Homo sapiens: one gene and its partner. The protein of the gene in region 2 purifies or fractionates together with the protein of the main gene of each other region. This does not show direct contact. Each region holds a gene or a part of one and is shown on either strand. Other genes may lie near its edges.

Region 1 (3,747 bases), on a different chromosome or scaffold from region 2:
CAAAGTCAGGAAGCCCAGAGGAGTCTGGAAGCCTCCTTAGCATGGGTGTTCTCTCCTTGAAGTTTGGAGCTGTCCCTTTAGAAGGCAAGGGGATAGACTAGATGACCCGGAGCCCAGAGATTCCAGCACAAATTTGTTTCACATCACAAAATAGGTCTGGCCAGTTGGTACCCTCTACCTTCATTCAGTGGGAATGAACTTGAACTCAGCCCCTGAATCCTCAATACAGTCTATGAGGATCCTCAATACAGTCTTTGAGTGATTGATTCGTGATGTCTGCCATAGGTGTGGAAAGGGGCATGTGGCAAGCTGAGTTCTGTTTTGCCAGCCCTGTCTTAAGAGGTGCCCTGCTCAGGGGTGTTTGCATATTCACTGGAGACTTTTTTGTTTGTTTGTTTGTTTGTTTGTTTGTTTGTTTTTGAGACAGAGTTTTGCTCTTGTTGTCCAGGCTGGAGTGCAATGGCGCAATCTTGGCTCACTGCAACCTCCACCTCCCAGATTCAAGCGATTCTCCTGCCTCAATCTCCCAAGTAGCTAGGATTACAGGCATGTGCTACCATGCCTAGCTAATTTTGTATTTTTAGTAGAGACGGGGTTTCACCATGTTGGCCAGGCTGGTTGCGAACTCCTGACCTCAGGTGATCCACTGGTCTCGGCCTCCCAAAGTGCTGGGATTTACAGGTGTGAGCCACCACACCTGGCCAGGGACTCTTAAGAAGGATAATTTTGTTGTCAGTAAAGGATCAAAATCCTATCGGTGGTCTTTTGGGCAGTCCCATGGCAGCCTATCCCATGAGCCATCAGAGGACCTATTTGGGAACAAGGAGGAGCTTCTTTAAGTTATACCAACAATTGTACCTACTCTGACCACCCTACGTGTTGTCTGAAAATATACAGATTTGTTTCTAAATCCTGTGAGTGGGGAAGGAGTGGGTGACAAGACCAGAACTGGAGCTGGCACCAGGCTGACAGGCAGCACGTCCAGGTCTAGGGCCTTGAGTTCATGCACCCAGGTATGGCATGAAGTGAACTCTTAGGCCCAGAACCTGCCTGGGCAGATAGGCCAGGAGGCAGAGGCTGTGCTGGTGGCAGGTGGCAATCAGAAGACCTCATGGAGTAGGCAGTGTGGGCCTTGAGAAGAAGTAAAGCGTTAACCCAGGAAACACAGCAAAGAAGAGCATTCCAGTCAGAAGGAACAGCCTGGGCAAAAAGCCTGCTGCTGAGAGGAAGGGCATTGTGCATTTCAGGAACTCCTAGCTCTCCTCGAGGCTGGAAGGGGCAGGGAAGTGGAGGAGAGGAGAGCTGGCAGGGTGGGCAGGGGACAACCATGCTAGGCCTTAAGGGCTGGCTGAGGAGCTAGACTTCCTCCAGCAGGGAGTGGGGAGGCTGTTGGCAGAACCTGCAGGGAGAGGAACAGGTCTGGAACCCACAGAAGCCTATCCCAGGGCCAAACTGAGCCACAAACCAGGAGGAAGCAGAAGGGGCCAGGTCATAGCTGCCTGGCCAAACCCCATTCCCGAGCTCCCAGGGCCTCACCCTTCATCCTCCCAAAGTCTGTGGCCGCCAATACGCAACTTTAAATGCCTGAGCTCAAGTAGACCATTTGAGAGTCCCCACAGAGTTTGGGGGTCACTGGGTCCCAGCCCCAACCTGGACTGAGATTTGAGCTGTGGAATGGGAAAGCGGTGGGGAGAGCTGCCCAGGGCCACACACGGAGCTGGGTCTTCAGTGCCCCCACTCCAGCAGGCACACCTCCTGCATGTTCTAGGCCGGCTCCTCCCAGCGCCCTGCCCCTCATCCCTGACCCCAGGCCTCTGGGCTGGAGTCCAGAGGCTGCAGGAGGCTGGGCTGGGATCCTAGCTGAAAGCGGGTGTGCTGGGGGTCAGGGAGGAGAGCAGCCAGGCCTGCAAAGAGGAGCCCTGCAGGAGTTGGCCTGGGCAGGTGCCTGTGGTCAGGGGTGTGCACTTGTGAAGGCATGTTTGAGGGTGTCACAGGTCCATGAGGCCTGCAGATGTCATGTGTGTGTCCTGGACCTGGAGCCTTCCTCTGCCCCACCCCTGAGGCCCTCCAGCCTATTGAAAACCCCCTATACTGCAAAGCCCAGACTTGGCCCCTGGAATCTAAGGCTTGAGTGGGGCTCTGGTCAGGTCGAGGGGCAGGGGGTCCTCCTGGTGCTCAGGGGCAGGACCAGCCCAGGGGCTGAGGGGCTGGACCAGCCCATTGAGGGGCCCCCAGCTGGGTCCAGACTTCCTATGTCTTATTTAGCTACAAAGCCAGGGGTCCCAGGCAGTCCCAAGAAAAGCAGCTCTAGCCCTTCCCCTCCCCGCCCTTCCCTTCCCTTCCTCTTCTCTTGTATCCCTAGCCTCTCTTTTTGACACTGTAACTCAGCACAGAGCTGAGCCGATCTCACAGCCCCTTGGAGGCAGAACCCCAGAGAGATGGACGCCCACAAAGGGAAAGGGACCAAAGGGAGCTTTGTGTGATGTCCCACAGTGGCTCAGTGAGAGGCAGGACTCACTCCTGGGACTGTGGTCCTCAGACCCATCAGGGCCCTCCCAGTCTGTATGCTCCCACAGCCTCCTCGATTTGTCCATCAAAGCACATGTCACAATTTCAAACTGCATTTTTCACCACATGACCGGCATCCCTCTCTCCCACGGAAGTGGAGCCTGTGTTTATTCCTGCATGGAATTAAGTGCCTGGCACATAGTAGATGCTCAATAAATGTTTGCTGCATGACTGTATAACCCCAGGACTCTAGAGAGAGCTTCAGAGAAGTGGTGACATGTGTCCTAAATCCAGGCAGAGGAGAGAGGACAGCAAGTGCACGGGCAGGGAGGATGCAACCAAACCTGGTGGGGTGGGGAGCTTCCCAGAGAGTTAACGTCCTGTGGGCCGGAGCTATGCCTGGAGGCTCACCAGGCACCTGCAGACCCAGACAGGCAGCTGGAGAGGAGCAGAAAGAGCCGCAGGAGCCCCAACCTTTTCTCAGGCTGCCCAGGTGACTCAGCCTTCGGAGGACCCCTCGGTCACCAGGCTTGGCCTAGGTGTCTAGGTTCTGATCCCAGTGGCCCCACCCACGGTAGATACAGACCTGGACCCCAGAGGCCTCTGCGGTCCCAACCTCCCATGGGAGCATGGTGGAGCCCAGTCGTCCCCCTTATTTTCCAAGGCTCCCCTGCTGTTTAATCCTGGGCTCCACGCCCACTCACCAGGGGATTCGGGCCACTCACTCCGTCCTCTCATTTTGGGTCCTCCAGACCTCCCCAGACTGAGGGAGGGTACAGAGGGCCCATCCTCCTCCATTTGGAACTGCCCCCAAACCCTCTCACATGGCTCTGGGGACAGCAGCATCGATAAGCATCCTGGATGCCTGGGACACTGCAGGTACCTGGCCTCGGCGTGCTCAGAACCTACATCTGAGTTGCCAAGCGTGGCCCCTCCCTGCTCACCACTGTGATCAGGCAGTTGCTGGGCTGCTCAGCTGGGAATTTCTGAACATGGAAATCACTTCCAAAATCCTCAGACCCTCTGAATGTCTGGGGTGCCCCAAATCTACCTGGCAACAGCTTGAGTCTCTCTGGAAACTGCTGAGAACGACCGAGAGATGTGACTCTTACCTGCCGAAAGGAAACAGGCTAAAATGAAAAAAGGGCTATGACCACATCTCCAGAGGCTGCAGCCAAGAGAAATTCAGTTTTCAGCTGTGGCTGCAGTAGATCTGACTGGCCCGGTTTCCTCTGCATC
Region 2 (3,747 bases):
CAGGGCAGATTGGCACCTCCTGCTGACTCTGCCATCCCTCCACGTCAGACCACCAAGGCCAAGTACAAGACTCCCACATACCCCTACCTGCTTCCCAAGTCTACCAGCACGGCCAATCAGCTCCCCTTCACACTTCCAGGAGGGCAGTGCACCACCGTACAGGTGAGGCCCCCCACTTCAGCCAGCCCTCCCCTTTGTCTCCTTCAGCCTAACACCCCAACCCACTCTCCCTGGTGTGAGAGCTGCCCACACTCTCCTTTCCTGGGGTTAAGAAGCACATCACGGCCAGGCACGGTGGCTCACGCCTATAATCCCAGCACTTTGGAAGGCCAAGGCAGGCGGATCACAAGGTCCGGAGATCGAGACCATCCTGGCTAACATGGTGAAACCCCATCTCTACTAAAAATACAAAAAATTAGCCGGGCGTGGTGGTGCGTACCTGTAGTCCCAGCTACTAGGGAGGCTAAGGCAGGAGAATCGCTTGAACCCAGGAGGAGGATGTTGTAGTGAGCTGAGATCACGCCACTGCACTCCAGCCTGGGCAACAGAGTGAGACTCCATCTCAAAAATAAAATAAAAGGCCAGGCGCAGTGGCTTACGCCTGTAATCCCAGCACTTTGGGAGGCCGAGGCAGGCGGATCACGAGGTCCGGAGAGCAAGACCATCCTGGCTAACACCATGAAACCCTGTCTCTACTAAAAATACAAAAAATTAGCCGGGAGTGGTGGTGCGTACCTGTAGTCCCAGCTACTTAGGAGGCTGAGGCAGGAGAATGGCGTGAACCCAGGAGGAGGAGCTTGCAGTGAGCGGAGATCATGCCACTGCACTCCAGCCTAGGCAACAGAGCGAGACTCTGTCTTAAAAAAGAAAAGAAATGAAGCACATCGCATTCACCATTCCCTAGGTCTTGCGATCAGTGGACCGCTGGTCAGCAGGGACTCTGGAGAACTCCATCCTCAATGCCTACCTGCACACCATCAGGGAGAGCCAGCACTTCCTCTACATTGAGGTCTGACTGGGAGGAGGTGGGGGAGAGCATGGAAGGGGTGTCCCAGGAGAGAGACCTGGGGAATGAGTGGAGTCAGTCATTGAGGGCTGGTGGAGCAGAAGCAGACGCCTGGAGCCTGGGACCAAGGCTGGAGGCCGAGGACAGGGCCAGGGGCCAGGCTGCTGATGTCTGTCTCTGATTCTTGCCCCAGAATCAGTTCTTCATTAGCTGCTCAGATGGGCGGACGGTTCTGAACAAGGTGGGCGATGAGATTGTGGACAGAATCCTGAAGGCCCACAAGTAAGGTGGACTGTCAGGAAGGTGGGGACTGTGGGTGTGGTTTGAGCCCGGTTGAAGGGGGTGGGGTTTGAGGGACCAGTCGCACCTCTGACTCCACCCCCTCCCCAGACAGGGGTGGTGTTACCGAGTCTACGTGCTTTTGCCCTTACTCCCTGGCTTCGAGGGTGACATCTCCACGGGCGGTGGCAACTCCATCCAGGCCATTCTGCACTTTACTTACAGGTGACCCCCCAGGCGGACTCCAGCTCTCAGTGGCCCCATCCCACCCGTGTCCCCCTCCTGATTCTGTCCTGATCCCTTCCTGCTGGGCCTTAAAGAAGGGCCACCTCTCCTGACCTCCCCTCCCCTCTGCCAGCCTCCACTTCTCTCCCTCTTTCTTTTCTCTCAGGACCCTGTGTCGTGGGGAGTATTCAATCCTGCATCGCCTTAAAGCAGCCAGTGAGTGCTGGGGGCTGGGGGCTCAAGCCCTGGGCCCCTGGGAGAGGGAGATTGGGGCGCTGCAGGCCTGGGGGTGGGGGAAGGAGGCTGTCACTCCTGTGAGCCTCTGACGCTACGCAGACCATAGCTGGCCTTTCACTGCAGGGAGAAGGAGAGAGACCAGACTCTATGTAGGAAGAGTTTCTGGAGTGAGAGGAGGTGGGACAGGGCCCTGTGCACACAGAGCCACCTCTCACCTCACTTCCCCTCCTGTCACGCAGTGGGGACAGCATGGCGGGACTATATTTCCATCTGCGGGCTTCGTACACACGGAGAGCTGGGCGGGCACCCCGTCTCGGAGCTCATCTACATCCACAGCAAGGTGCTCATCGCAGATGACCGGACAGTCATCATTGGTCAGTGCCGGATCTAGTCCTCTGGCAGGGAGAGGGTGTGGGGACAGGCGAAGAGATGAGAGGCAGGATGACAGAGACTGCAGCTGAGGCTCGTGTAGGGGTGGAGGGTCCAAGAAGGAATGTTGCAGGCCAGTGCTTTGGTAGAGGGGATGGGGTACTGGGGAGAGTGCCCTGGGCCCAAGCACACAGTGTGCCCCGCATCCACCCCAGGTTCTGCAAACATCAATGACCGGAGCTTGCTGGGGAAGCGGGACAGTGAGCTGGCCGTGCTGATCGAGGACACAGAGACGGAACCATCCCTCATGAATGGGGCAGAGTATCAGGCGGGCAGGTTTGCCTTGAGTCTGCGGAAGCACTGCTTCGGGTAGAGCTGGGGCGGGATGCCACAGGGTGGGAGGGAGATGGGGGCGTCTGCCTTTTGAGCAGGACAAGAGGTAGCACCGCATAGGTACTCCCGGAGCCAGAGGTAGAGGCAGTACTAGATTCTCAATAGGCAAGGCTGGGCGCGGCAGCTCACGCCTCTAATCCCAGCACTTTGGGAGGCCAAGGCGGGTGGATTGCCTGAGGTCAGGATTTTGAGACCAGCCTGGCTAACATAGTGAAACCCGTCTCTACTAAAAATACAAAAAATCAGCTGGGTGTGGTGGCGGGCGCCTGTGATCCCAGCTACTAGGACTAATCAGTTTAGAGTATCAGTAAAGCAGGAACACCAAAAAACAAAAAGAGAAAAAAATCTTTTTTTTTTGAGACGGAGTTTTGCTCTTGTTGCCCAGGCTGGAGTGCAATGGCGAGATCTCAGCTCACTGCAACCTCTGCCCTGGGTTCAAGCGATTCTCCTGCCTCAGCCTCCCGAGTAGCTGGGATTACAGGCATGCGCCACCACGCCCAGCTAATTTTGTATTTTTAGTAGAGATGGGGTTTCGCCGTGTTGGTCAGGCTGGTCTCGAACTCCCGACCTCAGGTGATCCACCCACTTCAGCATTCCAAAGTGCTGGGATTACAGGCGTGAGCCACTGCACCTGGCCACGAAAAAGAAATCTTTTTTGTTGTTGTTGTTGTTGTTGTTGAGACACGGTTTCACTCTTGTCGCCCAGGCTGGAGTGCAATGGCACGATCCTGGCTCACTGCAACCTCCGCCTCCTGGGTTCAAGCAATTCTTCTGCCTCAGCCTCCGGAGTAGCTGGGATTACAGGCGCCCACCACCACGCCCAGCTAATTTTTGTATTTTTAGTAGAGACAGGGTTTCGCTGTGTTGGCCAGGCTGATCTTGAACTCCTGACCTCAGGCTTCGGCCTCCCAAAGTGCTGGGATTACAGGCATGAACCACCGCCCCTGGCCAAAAAAAAAAAAAAATCTTTTTTTTTTTTCTTTTTTTTTGAGAGGGAGTCTCACTGTCGCCCAGGCTGGAGTGCAGTGGCGCGATCTCGGCTCACTGCAGGCTCCGCCGCCCAGGGTTCATGCCATTCTCCTGCCTCAGCCTCCCGAGTAGCTGGGACTACAGGCACCCGCCACCTCGCCCGGCTAATTTTTTGTATTTTTAGTAGAGACGGGGTTTCACCGTGTTAGCCAGGATGGTCTAGATCTCTTGACCTCGTGATCTGCCCGCCTCCGCCTCCCAAAGTGCTG

The links. The genes of interacting proteins can lie anywhere in the genome.
Region 1: the proteins of PLD2 (region 2) and CDH5 purify together in Homo sapiens (affinity purification with mass spectrometry; 3 studies listed by BioGRID and IntAct, with this or other methods). This does not show direct contact.

The regions. Positions count from the first base shown.
Region 1 is NC_000016.10:66,369,598-66,373,344, forward strand, and holds part of CDH5 (cadherin-5 preproprotein), read left to right. Parts: intron 1-3,559; exon of another isoform or gene 3,560-3,620; intron 3,621-3,747. UniProt on the Homo sapiens protein: Cadherins are calcium-dependent cell adhesion proteins. They preferentially interact with themselves in a homophilic manner in connecting cells; cadherins may thus contribute to the sorting of heterogeneous cell types.
Region 2 is NC_000017.11:4,817,098-4,820,844, forward strand, and holds part of PLD2 (phospholipase D2), read left to right. Parts: coding exon of another isoform or gene 1-48; coding exon 49-162; intron 163-904; coding exon 905-1,009; intron 1,010-1,199; coding exon 1,200-1,288; intron 1,289-1,396; coding exon 1,397-1,510; intron 1,511-1,676; coding exon 1,677-1,726; intron 1,727-1,986; coding exon 1,987-2,121; intron 2,122-2,331; coding exon 2,332-2,485; intron 2,486-3,747.